Linked DNA regions of Homo sapiens: region 1 is linked to region 2. The links come from fine-mapping of genetic effects on gene expression. A gene starts in region 2. The other region holds a variant in brackets. All regions are shown on one strand. Distances are between the middles of the regions.

Region 1 (8,371 bases), 31 kb after region 2:
CTATTCATCCCTGACCCCTAGTCCACATGAAATCATTTAAGACTTGTCTTTGGTGTGTCAATATCTTGTATTAATTCTTCCATGCTTTATCTCCAAGGCCTAGAACAACGCTCAGAGTAGGCATGCTAAATGAATGAAAGGCTTTCCATATATCTAAGTAGCATATTCCTTGGGCTTTAGGGACTTCGAAGATAGACAACAGTGTGGTGGTGGGGGCTTTCTGGAGAAGGTATAGTAAAAGGCCTAACACATGATGTCGTGGAGACTAGTGGCTGGTTAACAGAAAAAGTCAGTTAAAACTTCTTATTTAACACTGCATCATAAAGTCAGCATTTTCAAATGCTGTTCAAAATATGTTCCAAATGCAAAAAGAAGAAATAAAAATGCAAACTCCATTTTTGTTATAACTACAGGATATCCAAAATTCCAAACCCCCAAACAGGTGAAAAAGCTGTCAAAAGCAGGGAGCTCAGGCAGGGACTCCTTTGCTTCACAGAAGAAAAAGAAGAAAGGATGCTACAGGGAGAGGACAGGGAAGCTGGTGATCTCAGAAAGATCTGCAAAAATATGTACTTCCTGTGGGTAAAGGACACACTCCAGCACCAAATTAATTCCTTGTTTTTGGAAGGCAGGAACTTCCTTGGACCTGAAGTTGAGGCTAAATGAGAAATCACGCAAGCTACATTTGCCTCACAGAGGTGGTGTCTGTGGTAGTAGAGAAGACATCCTTTGCATTGTGGAGATGCTAAGAGACGCCTTGCCTATCTCGATTGGCTGGCTAGAGACTAAGGGTAAACGGACTCACCCAGAACCCTAAATCAAGGGAACAACTGTAGCTAGCCCAGAACAGAGTTTTGGTAGCTCCTCCAACAAACATCCTGCAAAACAGCTGGTCCCTGAAAAACTTGCCTATTTAAAGATAAGTATACAAAAAATCTAAACAGGATCTATATAAATATACAACGAGAAAAAATTAGGAAAGAAATAGGAAAACCAAATGGCAGACTAAGACCACAGACTGGAAAAGGGCCTCCATGGACTAGATACAATGGTAATAAAATATTTTACACAAAGAAAAAAAGAAAACTTGATAAAATAGTTGTCTCTATGAAATGAGAGCTCAAAGCAGAAATACAAGAACTTTAGCAGAGGTAGGGAGACGAGAAGAGAAGACAAGCTGCATACTGGCAGAACTGAGGAAAGAAGTGAAAGGAAAAATACTGTTACAGAAATGAAGGTGAAACTGGAAGAAGCAAAGGGAGAAGAAACTGCTAAAAACACACTAGGAACAAAAGGAGAGAAATGGAAAAAAAAAATGAAACCAAAAAGGGCTAAAAGAAATAGAGAAGAAACAGTTACAAAAGACAGCAAAGGAGATGTAATATTTGCATAAAAGAAAACTTTAACATGAATGGGAAAAATATGTAAAGATATGTTCATAAAGATAGAATCTAAGGTGTTTCTGAACTATAAGAGGATTGGGGTCTACACACTGAAAGGTCACACTGTATCCCAGGGGAAACAAATTCAGAATAGGCAGTACCAAGATACACCTTTAGGTAAGGTTTCTGGGTTCCTGCAACCAGGCAAAAAGATCAAATCACTTAAAAGAGAAACAAAATAATGAAAATTTCCACATTAATATTTAATGCTAACAGAAAATGGAACAACACCTACAAAATTCTCAAGGACAGAAAGTGTGACTCAAGGACTTTATTTATTTTTATTTTTATTTTTGAGACGGAGTCTCGCTCTGTTGCCAGGCTGGAGTGCAGTGGCGCGATCTCGGCTCAGTGCAACCTCCACCTCCTGGGTTCAAGCGATTCTCCTGCCTCAGCCTCCCAAGTAGCTGGGACTATAGGCATGCGCCACCATGCCCAGCTAATTTTTGTATTTTTAGTAGAGACGGGGTTTTACCATGTTGGCCAGGATGGTCTGCATCTCTTGACCTTGTGATCCGCCCACCTTGGCCTCCCAAAGTGCTGGGATTACAGGCGTAAGCCACTGTGCCCAGAAGACTCAAGGACTTTATACCCAGTCAACTGTCCAGCAAGGGTAACAGAATGGGGACCATTATTCCCAGGTATTTCTTTTTTTCTTTTTTTTTGAGACAGAGTTTCACTCTTGTTATCCAGACTGGAGTGCAATGGCGCGATCTCCGCTCACCACAACCTCTGCCTCCCCGGTTCAAGCGATTCTCTTGCTTCAGCCTCCTGAGTAGCTGGGATTACAGGCATGTGCCACCACGCCTGACTAATTTTGTATTTTTCGTAGAGATGGGGTTTCTCCATGTTGGTCAGGCTGGTCTCAAACTCCCAAACTCAGGTGATCCGTCCGCCTTGGCCTCCCAAAGTGCTGGGATTACAAGCATGAGCCACTACACCCAGCCAAGTATTTCTTAAGGAATCTACAAAAGGAAGCACTTGTGCCAACTAACAGGTGACTGGAAAAACTATGGCAGGGCCAGGCCTGGTGGCTCATGCCTGTAATCCCAGCACTTTGGGAGGCCAAGGTGGGTGGATCATTTGAGGTCAGGAGTTCAAGACCAGCCTGGCCAACATGGTGAAACCCCGTCTCTACTAAAAATACAAAAATTAGCCAGGTGTGGTGGCATGCACCTGTAATCCCAGCTACTCAGGAGGCTGAGGCAGAATTGCTTGAACCCGGGAGGTGGAGGCTGCAGTGAGCTGAGATCGCACCATTGTACTCCAGCCTGGGTGATGGAGCGAGACTCTATCTCAGAAAAAAACAAACAAACAAAAGTTAGCTGGGCAGAAGTGGCATGTGCCTGTAATTCTAGCTACTTGGGAGGCTGGGGCAGGAGAATCGCCTGAACCCAGGAGGAGGAGGTTACAGTGAGCCAAGATCGTGCCACTGCACTCCAGCCTGGGCAACAAGAGTGAAACTCCGTCTCAGAAACAAAAACAAAAACAAAAACAAAAAAACTACGGCAAAAACTTACGGTGAGCACTGAAAACTACTTAACTGTAGGTCTAAGACTAAAATAGGATTAGGGTAACAACAGATCGTCAATACTATATGCTTTGATGATGTATAAAACTCCAGCTAGCAAAAACTAGGAAGAGAAGAGGGGAAAAAGGAGGGAGGTAGAATACGAACACTGATTTCCTCACCCTCAGTAACTGAGAGTCCATGGATAGCATTTAAAACTAAAGTAATAAAGATATGGTTAATCTGACTTTTACTGTGACTTTTCCCGTGAATGTTCAAGCCTACCATCATTGTTATAAACAACAAAACTTTGAGAGCCACTGAACTTTTGGCTAGGGCCAAAAAACCCTCTTTCTTTCTTTCTCTTTCTTTCTTTCTTTCTTTCTTTCTTTCTTTCTTTCTTTCTTTCTTTCTTTCTTTCTTTCTCTCT[CTCTCTCTT/C]TCTTTCTTTACTTTTTTCTTTCCTTCCTTCCTTCTTTCCTTCCTTCCTTCTTTCTTTCTTTCTTTTTTTAGAGACAGGGTCTTGCTCTGTCACCCAGGCTGGAGTGCAGTGCCATGATAATAGCTCACTGCAGCCTTGAACTCCTGGGCTCCAGCAATCCTCCTGCCTCAGTCTCATGAGTAGCTGGGCCTATAGGCATGTGCCACCATGCCCAGCTTTTTTTCTTTTTTTTTTTAATTTCTAAGTAGAGATGAGGTCTTGCTATATTGCTCAGGCTGGTCTTGAACTCCTGAGCTCAAGGGATCCTCCCGCCTCAGCCTTCCAAAGCATTGGGATTACAGGTGTGAGCCAATGTGCCCAACCTAGAAGGATCTCTTCTGCTGATTAGAGTTTTTTGCCATTATTGCAAAAAACTCACCCAGAATGCATCATCTACAATTTCCAGTTTCTTAAAGTTAGAACTCAAACTGCTGTGAAACAGTAAGTACAGAATCCTAGATTTTTAAGATCCTTCCACCTCTACTCTTCCATAGTTATCTTGCCCAAACCTAATTCAGCTTCATTTCCTTTTTAAAGTACTTGTCCTTCCAAAGCATTCCTCTTACTTTTCACAGAGTAATTTTCTTTTCTTTTTTTTTTTGGAAACAGTCTCACTCTGTTGCCCAGCTGGAGTGCAGTGGCACGATCTCGGCTCACTGCAGCCTCTGTCTCCCAGGCTCAAGCGATTCTCTTGCCTCAGCCTCCTGAGTAGCTGGGACTACAGGCGCCCGCCACCACGCCCAGCTTATTTTTTGTATTTTTAGTAGAGACGAGGTTTTACCATGTTGCCCAGGCTGGTCTTGAACTCCTGAGCTCAGGCAATCTGCCTACCCCGGCCTCCCAAAGTCCTAGGATTACAGGCGTGAGCCACCATGCACAGCCAGAATAATTTTCTTTTCTCCCTCATAATTTAATCTGTATATTATTTAATCAAATTACATAATTACAGTACCAGTTTACTGGCATAAAGAGATCTGGAAACATCACAACTGACCTTTGGTAAGCAAAATGACTCAAGTGTAAGTGAGCAATGGATGAGCGAACAGCTGCCCGTGTTAGTCCTGCTAGTCAGTTCAGACCTTGTCCACTGAATATGAAGTTGACCATGAAAGATGGCTAACATTTCTCTGATTGGAGATAGATGGGACTTAAGAAAGTTGGAGGCTGCCAAGCATGGGTGTGGGAGCAAGCAGTCAAGAATCAACACTGAACTCATGTACCTAAAGAACTGGAGATAGAGTCAGGGCACAAAGAAGGGTTCTGTTAAACAACAGAAGTTGGCTGATGCGCTGACCTTGAGGATGCCTGCAGAAATCTAAGTAAATACCTGAGAGAACACTGACAGATAAAGTCACAAACCAACACAGGGAGGCTGGTAGGGAAAGAAAATCTGAGACGTGAGTCATGTAAATGGTATTCAAAACCACAGGAACAGAAAGAAAGAGGCTAAGTCTTCGAGAGGCCTAAACTCAGCTTCACACAGTGTGCATTGAACAAATATGAATTATGAAGTAATAATAATTCAACCTTCTACTCAGCAAGCATGGGAAATAATGACACTAGCAAAATTCACTCAGAAGTGTTTATTAACAGAGTTTAAACAAAAGTGCTACTGATTTTTCAGTACTTGGCAAATCCAATGGTAATTCAACCTAAAAATAATTACAACCAGGATGAGTTTCATCTGACATAAAGATTAGGATAACCCCAATAAACCAACAGGATATCTTGATATAAGGGGAAGGCAATAGAGAAAATGCTTCGGGTGATAAATCTGAAATCTTAAAAGGTAAAATGAGGCATAGATACTGATGTTTTCCAAGATCAAGATACATAAATTTATGACAACATTTTAGTGAGTGAAAGTCGGTGTTTTTAGCTCTGTCCTATTTAAATTTTTCTCTTGGAACCCCTGAAAATAGTCAAGAGTAGGAATGAGTACTGTAGTCAAAATGTCAATTCCTCTAAAGACAATCTAACCTGTTATCGAGTCTCTCCACTCTCCCCCAACACCTCTGGACATCTGTGTCTCTTTATTTTTTTTTTTTCTTGAGACATGGTCTCACTCTGTCGCCCAGGATGGAATACAGTGGCATGATCTCGGCTCATTGCAACCTCCACCTCCCAGATTCAAGCGATCCTACAGCCTTAACCTCCCCAGTAGCTGGGACTACAGGCCACATGCCACCACACCCGGCTAATTTTTTTTCTTTTTTTTTTGAGACGGAGTCTCGCTCTGTGGCCCAGGCTGGAGTGCAGTGGTGCGATCTCGGCTCACTGCAACATCCGCCTCCCGGGTTCAAGCAATTCTCCTGCCTCAGCCTCCCGAGTAGCTGGGACTACAGGCGTGTGCCACCACACCCAGCTAATTTTTTGTATTTTTAGTAGAGACAGGGTTTCACTGTGTTAGCCAGGATGGTCTCGATCTCCTGACCTTGTGATCCGCCTGCCTCGGCCTCCCAAAGTGCTGGGATTACAGGTATGAGCAACTGCGCCCAGCACACCTGGCTAATTTTTGTATTTTTTGGTAGAAATGGGGTCTCACCATGTTGGCCAGGCTGGTCTCAAACTCCTGATCTCAGGTGATCCGCCCACCTCAGCCTCCCAAAGTGCTGGGATTACAGGTGTGAGCCACCTCGCCTGGCCTCATTTTTTCTTTTCTAGGATGCTATCACCTCATCCTCCATCCCTTGAAGGTACTTGCTTCTATAACTGGACCTACTTACTGTCTGCAACACAAAGTTAACCTCTGCAGACAAAAGTAGATTAAGACCAGGCATAGCAGCTCATGCCTGTATTCCCAGCATTTTGGGAGGCCTAGGAAGGAGGATTGCTTGAGCCCAGGAGTTCAAGACCAGCCTGGGCAACATAGTGAGACCTCTGTCTCTCTAAAAAAAAAAAGTTTAAAAACTAGCTGGGCATAGTGGCACAAGCCTGTAGTTCCAGCTACTCGGTAGGCTGAGGTAAGAGGATCACTTGAGCCTGGAAGTCAAGACTTCAGTGATTGCACCACTGCACTCCAGCCTGGGAGACAGGGCGAGACCCTGTTACAAAAAAAAAAAAAAAAAAAAAAAAAAAAGTAGATTAAAATGAGTCTGCTAGTTTCATATCAGAATTGAATCTAAGAAGAAAAATAAAAGTGTTTCTTCAAGGATACAGATGTGCCTCAGGAACCTAGCTCTAGAACTACTAGGGGTGGGGACAAGTCAGTTGCAACAACCCTCCGGAAGGACAGAGGATTCCATGCTCTTCAAGGGTTCCATCCCTGGTTGTTTCTCACTGAAATCAAAGAAAGTTCTGAATCTAATCCCATGTCAACAGAGATCACTTAAAAACAGACTGATCTGGTACCTGAAGATAATAAACAAGAAGGCATAAGCAAGGTATTTAAATTACCTTTTACTCTAGTAAAAACACAGTCTCCAAACCTTAAATTGGTCATGTTCCAAATGTTTAAGTATTTAAATTTACAATGCATTTTTCTATAAAGGTAATAAGTAAGATTTTCAAGGCTAGCAGCTCATGAAAGCAGACTTAAATCCATAAAGCTACCCAAAATGTGGTACCAGAGAGCACCCCTGCCACTACACCTAATATGAACAATACTGTTTCTATAATAAAATGCAGTTCTGTATTGGGATGGCAGGATTCCATCTAACCGAAAATTTCACAGGCAGAGAGGATAAGTAAAATCTTTTGAGACACTAGCAGCATGTTAATGCATGCCACATCCCAAGCTTAATCGAATCCATAGAAACCTCTAATCTAGATCAATCCCTCTCCAGGTCCCTTGCACTGTAGGGCAAATGCCTGTTGTGCTACAAAAGACAGAGGCTCACATTCCTACTGTGGAGTCTTTCTCAAAATAACTGTGTTATACATAGAAGACAAAAACACTAATCAAATATAAAAGAGCATGGTCACAGTGCTTGTATTAAAACATGAGGATGCCAATACTGCAACACTCAAGTTTTGAAAAAGAATTGTTAATCACTGACAAGACTCTAGTCTACTATATAAAAAGCTGAGTGCTGATAGCTTTTTCTTTTTATTTGATACAGAGTCTCGCTCTGTCGCCCAGGCTGGAGTGCAGTGGCGTGATCTTGGCTCACTGCAGGCTCCGCCTCCCAGGTTCATGCCATTCTCCTGCCTCAACCTCCGGAGTAGCTGGGACTACAGGCACCCGCCACCACACCTGGCTAATTTTTTGTATTTTTAGTAGAGACAGGGTTTCACCGTGTTAGCCAGGATGGTCTCGATCTCCTGACCTTGTGATCCGCCTGCCTTGGCCTCCCAGGCTGATAGCTTTTTCTACTCCTTCGTGGCATAGCTGGTTTCATTAATTCCTAGGAAAGGGCTTCAGAAAATAAGTAGGGAAGAGATTGTTGAGAGATGGGAAATGCATCATTTTCTTGTCTATACTTGGGGGCATGGTGGCTATTAATGAGCCAAAGGGTAACGACGCTCTGAGGTGACTCAGCACTGACGGGAAGAGAAAATCATCTGAGAGTCATCTTGGCCCAGAGTCAGACTCTAGTTCCCATATTATACATTTTAGAAAGAAATGAAAAGAGGAAGAAGATATCTTTATGAGTAGTATTGAGGACCTGGTACATATGCCTTTTTCTCTCTTACTCGTACTTTCATTCCAAAGTCCAATGTTTTATCGGTGTTTTAAGACAAGCAAAGGACTGACTATCCTCATTCCCTTGCATCTCTTTTACCTAAAAATGAACATATGGTAATTAGACTCAATGACTGTTGGCTGGATGTCTATGTAGGTGTAACTACAGTGAACAACATGGAACACATTAACAAGTACCAGGCATACTTGACTTCATTGAAAAGTTGACTTCTAGCTAGGGAGACAAAACAATATGCATGAAAGAGACATTAAATCACCATTAAATCATTTTAACAGAAAACTTTAAAAGCGTATTA
Region 2 (8,371 bases):
TGGAGACCAGCCTGGCCAACATGGTGAAACCTCGTCTCTAATAAAAATACAAAAAATTAGCTGGGCATGGTAGCAGGTGCCCGTAATCCCAGCTACTCAGGAGGCTGAGGCAGGAGAATCGCTTGAACTCGGGAGGCAGAGGTTGCAGTGAGCCGAGATTGTGCCACTGTACTCCAGCCTGGGGGACGGTGTAAGACTCTGTCTCAAAAAATAAATAAATAAATAAATAAATAAATAAAAATACAAAATTAGCTGGACGTGGTGGCGCACGCCTGTAGTCCCAGCTACTTGGGGGGCTGAGGCGGAAGAATCGCTCGAACCCAAGAGGTGGAGGTTGCAGTGGGCGGAGATCGTGCCACTACACTCCAGTCTGGACGACAACAGAACGAGACTCTGTTTCAAAAAAGAAAAAAAAAAAAGAAAAAGAAAAATGCTACCAGTGTGTTCAAAAGCCTGCTGCTGCACCCAAGCACCTCAAAGGAAGGCCTGGTGGCATCGTATGCCCCTCCATGCCCAGCACAAGGCAGGAGCCCAATACATGTTGGCCAAATGAATGACAACACCCACAGTCCTTGCCGTGACCTACAGGGCCTGTGTGATCCAGCCCCCAGTGATTCTCTGGCCTCATCTCAAACGCTCTCCCCTGTCACTTCTGTGCTCCACCCCAGTGGCCTCTTTCAGTTCAAATCCAACCTGCTTTTCCCCGCTTCATTCTCCCTTCCTCCCTACACACAAGCTGATCCTTGGGCCTGGAAAGCTTCCTGCCTTTGCTTCATCCACTCCCCACTTGCCCTGGAGACACAAGTCAGTGGTGCTGCCCCCAGGCAGCCCTCCAAGTGCCTCCATGAGGGTAGCACCAGGTGTGCCGTATCCTCTACACCTGGCGTGCAGTGGGAGGGCAACACGTGCTTGTGGAATGGGGCATCAGTGCAAGAATGAGAGACAGCAGTTAAGGATGGAACTTCAGAGCCTTGATCCTCGGGACAGGTTCCACCCTCTCTACCCGACATTCCTTCCTGGGCTTCTGGGCTGTGCACAAACCACCTTCGTGATCCACCTTTGTGATTATTTACTTCGTATTTTTCTTTAAATCAATTCACTTTCTTAGCCTCCTTCTGAGCGATAAAATCATGGTTGGATGTGTTAATTTATATTAACAATTCATGACTATTGGTTTAAAAATTGTTCCTGGGCCGGGCGTGTTGGCTCATGCTTGTAATCCCTGCACTTCGGGAGGCTGAGGCGGACGGATCACGAGGTCAGCAGATCGAGACCATCCTGGCTAACACGGTGAAACCTCATCTCTACTAAAAATACAAAAAATTAGCCGGGCGTGGTGGTGGGCGCCTGTAATCCCAACTACTCGGGAGGCTGAGGCAGGAGAATGGCATGAACCCGGGAGGCGGAGGTTGCAGTGGGCCGAAATCGTGCCACTGCACTCCAGCCTGGGCGACAGAGTGAGACTCCATCTCAAGTAAAAAAAAAAAAAAAAAGAAAAAAAGAAAAAATTGTTCCTCTAGGTAGCTCCTAAAAGGATCCTGTCCAGTTGCACCCGCTTTGGGAACTGCTGCTCCACCCTGTATGATGTTGGGGTTGCTGGCCCTGCGGGTTGTCTTTGGTGCAGGCTCTTTCTGCCAGTGAGCAAAATGCATGTGTTCCTTTCGCTGTGAATTTCTTGACGGGGTAGAAGCCGAGCTCTCAACCCACTTCAACTAAAGCAGCCTTTCTATGGGTTTATGTATTTCTTCCCTGCCTATGTTTTAGTCCAGAAAACGTAAGTTCTTCTAAACTAAAACCAAAGCCAAAACCAAAAAACATGAAGGTTGACAACGATCATGCCAGGGCATAACTAAGTCACAGTCACAGTGTGGAAGACACCCACACTTGTGGGTGGGGAGAGGCTCCTTGGTCTCAGATGTGAAGTGCAAGAGGCTTTCTACTCTAATATGAAGACTCCAGGAGCCTGGGAGGGGCTGTGGCCGGGAGAGCTGAGCACCCGTGGCCGGGTGAGCTGCTGTGTTATCCATGCTCCATCCCCGACCACTGGGTCCTTGGGTAGGCCCCACCCACTCCCACTCAGTGTCCCTGACTGTGAACTATGAGACTGGGAGCTCAGGGACAACCTGGGGCTCATTGTCTGCTCTGAGGGAGCAGTGAGCGAGAAGGGTAGGGACGAGGCTGGGCCTGGGCCAGGGCACACTCTGTCCCCGCAGGCCCCTGGCTTTCTCCCAGGCTTCTGAGGCCTCCGCCCATAGCTGCATCACCCCAGGGTGCTTCCTCTGGGAGCCTTGGACATTGCCCCTCCTGCAAGAACCTCAGAAGGCCCCAATGGGAAGTTGCCTCTCATCAGCCTCTTCAGCCCAATGCAGGGCACACAGGAGGAAGGAGCAGAGGCATTTGTGGGTGGGGGAAGTACACATAGGGTTTGTGTGGGGCCACAGATCCTGCCTGGCAACTCCTGTCTGCCAAATGGGGGGTGATTATCCTGGTGAGACACATGGTAGGTGAAACTGAGCACCTACTATGTGCCCTACCAGGATAATCACCCCCATTTGGCAAATGAGGACACTGAGGCACAGAAAGGTTAAGTGATTTGCCCAAGGCCACACAGCTAGTTAGCAGCAGGTTCCACAGCTTAACTACATATGCCTCCTAAAAATGTCCTCCCATACAGCCCCTCACATCTACTGTGGCCGTGCCAAGGGGAGTTGAAGACCACAGGAGAAGACACGCACCCATTTGGCCAGACCAGGGCTGGGAGCTGGGGGTAGTTCTCAGAAGTAGAACTTGTTAGCCAGGGAGTGCTGGGGGCTGCTTCCAGACACAGGCCTGTGGAGGACCCACATCTTGCCTCCAAGGTGTGACTGGGACCACTGTAGGGCCAGGAGTGACAGGCACCCGGGGTGAAGCCCGGGCTAGGGATAGATGGCTGCCAGCCTATGTGAATAAGGACACCCCAGGGCCTCGGTGTGCGGCTGACACACTGTCCATGCCATGCCTCCAGGGCTGTCCAGGAGCCCCAGCATAGGGTTCCAGATCTCCCACCAGAGCCAGCCCAGGAACTGGACCCAGTTCCAACACCTTGGCTCCTTCCGACATGGGGACCCCCATCTATGTCCTCAGAATGCCTAGCATACAATTCTTACAGCGATGGGGCTGGAGGCCTTAGCTTAAAGGCTGTAGGGGTGTAAGGAGCGCCAGCGTGTAACGAAGGTCTCATTCCCCAGAAGGCTCTGGGGGAAGCACAGGGCAGGCGGCTGGGCTGCCTCAAGACACTGGGCCGGTTTCCCCACCTGTGAAGCGGGAGCAGCGCTGTGGGTGGCCTCCTTGCACTCATAGTGTGGCCTTCGAGGCTAGGGCTCCACAGGAAGGTGGCTGAGAGTGGATGAGGGCCTCATGGGCCCAGCACACCCTCCCACAGGGAGAGGGGAGTCCACCCTCTTCCCTGCCCAGCTCCCCCATACCCACTGGGGCTAGCCAGCCTTCCTGTGGGACAGAGGCTGTCCCCACTTCCTCCTGGTCACCCCTACCCCACACGCCCACCTCCCCTCCACAAAACACATACCCTGAGGGGCCCTCTGGTCCAAGCCTCCCCTTTCACAGGTGAATTAACTGAGGCCCAGTAAGGCCAGGGCGTTTAGAGACTCAGGGATGAAGCCACATCAGACCTCAGGTCTGGCTGAGACCAGGGCTCTGACCACCCCCGAACACGGCCTGGTGGGTTGCAGTCCAGGGGCTGAGGTGGGGGAGGAGTGGGGATCCAGTCACAAAACCCCAGGACATAGCCCACCTGGGCCGTCCCTGCCCACCGCACTGCTGGGGGGGGGGGGTGCGTTCTGGAGTCATTTGGGGAAAGGATCCCATTGGCCCTGTTTAGGGGACCTTTTCCCAGACCAAGAGTGGATTGCAATGGGGCCCTGGATCTGTCTCAGTTGCTCACCAGGGAGGGCGTGGAATAGGCTCCACAACCCCCAAACCTCGGTCCCCATCCATGCCCCGGCATCTTGGCCGGGTTGTAGGAGCGAGGGAGAACGCGACTGTAACGCGGGCGTTGAGCACCTAGAGTTCCCCTTCCTCTTCACTGAGAGCTGCGGCGGAGGCTTTAGACCGAGGAGCGAGATCTAAGGTTAAAGAAAGGGCCTCTGAGCCCAGTGTTGGCCAGAGACCCCACAGGCGGGCCGGGTTCGCCCTTTGCCTTCGGCCGCGCCCCACCCACCAGGGACAGAGTGGCCGCGGCCGAGCCGGGTCCACCCGCCGCAGCTTAGCTCCGCTCCGCCGCCCTCCCCGTCCGTCCTCCCCAGGCTCCCGTCGCCCTCGCCCACCCTGGGGCCCCCTCCCCAGATGGGAGCCCCTCCGACCCCTGCGAGGCCCGCTGGGGACCCACTTGACCGCGAGATCGTAGTGGGAGCTCGGCCAAAAGAATTCTTCGCTTTCCCTGGCCCTCAGTTTACCCATCTGGGAAGAGGGGCGTCGCGGCCGCAGAAGTCCAGCTCCGCACGCGCCAAGCGCTGGGTCTGCAGCTCCCTCGGTTCCCGCGCACCCAACTGCCCCACGACCCCTACCCGCGCCCGCAGCCCCCGCCCTCCCGCCCCACTTGCCTGGGCCGCCGGGCGCTGGAACCTGGACCCTGGACCCTGGCGGGTTCCGAGCTGCGCCGCCGCCGTCCCTGCCCCTCCAGCACTGGACTCCTCCTTTCCCGTCTTTTTAAAGGGAAGTAACCGGACCCGACCACTACTCCACCCGATTCACCCCTAGCGGGCCGCCCGCCCGCAGCTCCGCCCGGGCTCCTCCCCCGTCCGCCCGCGGCTTCCCGGGAGCCCCCCAGGGCTCCTCCGCTCCTCCGACGGCCCGGCCTTCCCCCCGGGGCCTGGGATGCACCAGGGCTCCTGCTGCCCCCGACGGGGTCCCTGTCGCCGCAGCCCGCGGGACCCGCCGGCCACATCTGGACGGCATCTGCCGCGGGGGAGGGGCTCAGAGCCTCGCCCTGAGTGTCCCGCAGGGAGCCTTGTGCATCCGGGGCAGGAAGCCAGCGCATCCCGTGCAGACGGGTGGTGCAGATAACGGACCCGCCACAGCACGCAATTCAACTTTCTTGGTACCTGGGACTCGTAGTTCAGAAGGCGCAGTAGCACGACCTTGCGAAAAAGCACCGGAGTCGGGAACACGCGCTTCTCATTTTTTTCTTTTTCCTTTATTTGTTTTTGAGACAGAGTCTCGCTCTGTCGCTCACGCTGGAGTGCAGTGGCACTTTCTCCGCTCACTGCAACTTCCTCCTCCTGGGTTCAAGCGATTCTCCTGCCTCAGCCTCCCGAGTAGCTGGGACTACAGGTGCACGCCACCACGCCTGGTTAATTTTTGGAGTTTTAGTAGAGACAGGGTTTCACCATGTAAGGCTCGTCTCGAACTCCTGACCTCAAGTGATCCGCCCGCCTTGGCCTCCCAAAGTGCTGAGATTACAGGAGTGAGCCACCACACCTGGCCTGCGCCTCTCATCTTGATCCTGCTTGCAGAGGTTGTGCAGCCACCGGAGCCCCGCCAGGGTGGGGCTCCCTGTCTCTGAGCAGCTTTAATGGGCGGTACCAGATAATATTTGTATTGGTTCCCTGTGGCTGCCGTAACACAAACATAAAACAACACTAATTTACTATCTTACAAGTTTTGTAAAATCAGAAGTCCAAAATGGGTCTCGCTGGACTAAAAGCAAGGGGGTTGAGGGATACAGCTTTCTTGAGGCTGGAAGGGAACCTGTTTCTTTGGCTTTTCTGGCTTCTAGAAGCTGCCCACATTCCTTGGCTGGTGGCCCCATCCATCTTCAAAGCCAGCAGTGGCCCACCAGTCTCTCACAATCTGTCACTCTGACACCAACTGTTCTGCCTCTTGCTTCCACTGGTGAGCATCTTTGTGATTACATCGGGCCTACCCAGATAATCCAGGGTAATCTTTCTATTTTAAATCAATGGATTGGCAACTTGAATTCCACCTGCAACTGTAATTTCCCTTCGTGGGGTAGCATAACATATTCACAGATTCTGGGCATTAGAACCAGGGCATCTTTTGAGGAGGAGGATATGATTATGTCTACCACAATATTCAAGCTGACTTCCAGACTTTCAGATTTATAATCAAATTTAAGCTCTTCCTTATCCATGATTGGAATCCTTGGGACAGTTAAAGCCTTGCACTGCATGGTCCAAATTGATGGCTTTGTGACTGGCTGTGTTTTATTATTTTACTTGCACTTGCTCTTCTTTTGGAAACTTCATGGAGGACCAGGGTACCTCTAGGTAGCAGCCTTGCTTCTCCTTCCTAATTTGCTCTGTACTCTTAAAAACCAGGTCACAAACATATCGGAATATAGAATTGTGTGTAAAGTAAGAGTAAGTAGGCTGTGAGTGAGACCTCAGAGGCTATTTTGTTTTTTTTCTCTCTCCAGTCTCATGCATGTCTGACTCTCTCCACTATCATATCTGGCATAATCTCCTCCATGTCTGACAAGCCAAGGAAAACACTACATCAGGCCAGGAGAGAATCTTCCCCCCGGAGCTCTGCCTCTCCCACCCAGGCTCCGCGGAGATTTTAAGAGGAGTAAAGATCCTGCTGTGGCAGAAGTGCAACCCAGCTTTCTGGAGGGCAGTTTGGGGTTAGGAATGAAGATCACTTTCAGAAATTTAGCCTGAAGAGGCTGGGCGTGGTGGCTCATGCCTGTAAGGCAGGTGGATCACTTGAGGTCGGGAATTCAAGGCCAGCCTGGGCAACCTGGTGAAACTGTGTCTGTACTAAAACACAAAAATCAGCCAGGTGTGGTGGCGCATGCCTGTGGTCCCACCTACTTGGGAGGCTGAGGCACGAGAATCGCTTGAACCTGGGAGGCAGAGGCTTCAGTGAGCTGAGATCACATGACTGCACTCCAGCCTCGACTACAGAGCAAGACTGTCTCAAAAAAATAAATAAATTTAGCCTAAGGAAATAGAATATTTATATGCAAGGCTTTTCACTGCAGTATTACTTATAATACTGGAAAATCAGAAATAGCCTAAGTGGGCTGGGCGTGGTGGCTCATGCTTGTAATCCCAGCACTTTGGGAGGCCAAGGCAGGCAGATTACGAGGTCAGGAGTTCGAGACCAGCCTGGCCAATGCAGTGAAACCCTGTCTCTACTAAAAATACAAAAATTGGGTGGGCATGGTGGTGGGTGCCTGTAATCCCAGCTACTGGGGAGGTTGAGGCAGGAGAATCGCTTGAACCCGGGAGGTGGAGGTTGCAGTGAGCCGAGATTGCGCCACTACACTCCAGCCTGGGTAACAGAGAGAGACTCTGTCCACCCCCTGTGAAAAAAAAGATGAAGAGACAGTGCTTGCTCCTGCAGAAAGAAAATTCATGGGCTCATAAACATGTAAAAAGATGTTCAATAACTCACTTATTAAGAAAATGAAAATTATAACTACAAAAGATACTATTCTTCACTTACCAGATCAGCAAAGATAAAAAGCAGTTTGGTAGGTCAGGCACAGTGGCTCATGTCTGTAATTCCAGCACTTTGGGAGGCTGAGGCAGGAGAATCACTTAAAACCAGGTGTTCGAGACCAGCCTGGGCCACGTGGCAAAACCCTGTCTCTACCAAAAAAAAAAAATTAGCCAGGCGTGGTGGCACGTGCCTGTAGTCCCAGCTACTTGGAAGAATGAGGTGGGAGGATTGCTTGAGCCTGAAAAGTCAAGGCTGCAGTGAGCCATGATCGTGTCACTGCACTCCAGCCAGAGCGATAGAGTGAGTCCCTGTCTCAAAAAAAAAAAAAAAAGTTTGGTAACACACTATTCGCAAGGGTGGGAGGAAAACAGGCAACCCCCTGCATTGCTGGTTGGTGTGTAGACTGACTCGACCTCAAAAGAGAATATTTGGGCAGTATTTATCAAACATATAAACACATGTCCTGTTTGACTTGGCACTTCCAGAAATTTATCCTACAGATAATGCTCACACGTAAGTGAAAGGAATACACAAGGCTTTCCACTGCATCGCTGCAACATTGAGCCAAAACCACAATGACTTTTGCACCAATCTAATAGCTGGAGACAACCTAAATGTCCACCAATAGAGATGGGATAAATGAATGATTATTGTATGCCCTGCAATGGAATGCATATGGCTATCAAAAATAACTAGGATTCTCCTTACAGAACGCTCCCCAGGACAGGTTGTTTAGTAATAAAACCTAGACGCAGAGCCGTGTTCAAGTCGTTTATCAATTGTACTTAAATGGAAAAAGCACAGAGACACACAATTTGCTTTTATATGTGCACGCGCTGATAACACGAGTTGTTTCCCAGGAAGGAAACTGGAGCTGGAGAACAGGGTGGGAAACGCATTTTTCAGC

Which allele goes with the higher level. Alleles are on the strand shown, and positions count from the first base shown. SD is a standard deviation of normalised expression in the study named.
For the expression in whole blood of the gene that starts at base 4,679 in region 2, allele CTCTCTCTT in region 1 goes with a higher level than allele C (moderate effect, 0.64 SD a copy in TwinsUK).

Evidence for each region. PIP is the estimated chance that this variant, and not a neighbour inherited with it, causes the effect.
Region 1: its variant is the best candidate, but not a certain one, in a credible set for the expression of ANPEP in whole blood (TwinsUK, PIP 0.72).

The regions. Positions count from the first base shown.
Region 1 is chr15:89,840,895-89,849,265 of GRCh38, forward strand. All of the region lies in intron 8 of ARPIN-AP3S2 (ARPIN-AP3S2 readthrough), which reads right to left. The region is part of intron 4 of AP3S2 (adaptor related protein complex 3 subunit sigma 2); the gene reads right to left. Among named protein-coding and RNA genes, the nearest start is that of MIR5094, 5.6 kb to the right of the region's middle. RefSeq lists an enhancer at 7,312-8,371. The variant CTCTCTCTT/C (reference allele first, on the strand shown) is at 3,383.
Region 2 is chr15:89,810,174-89,818,544 of GRCh38, forward strand. ANPEP (alanyl aminopeptidase, membrane) reads right to left here and starts at 4,679. Exons shown (of 21, transcript NM_001150.3): 1 at 4,599-4,679. RefSeq lists an enhancer at 4,248-4,747, promoters at 4,615-5,769, 4,615-5,103 and cis regulatory regions at 4,718-4,723, 4,975-5,103, 5,011-5,014, 5,013-5,042, 5,060-5,062.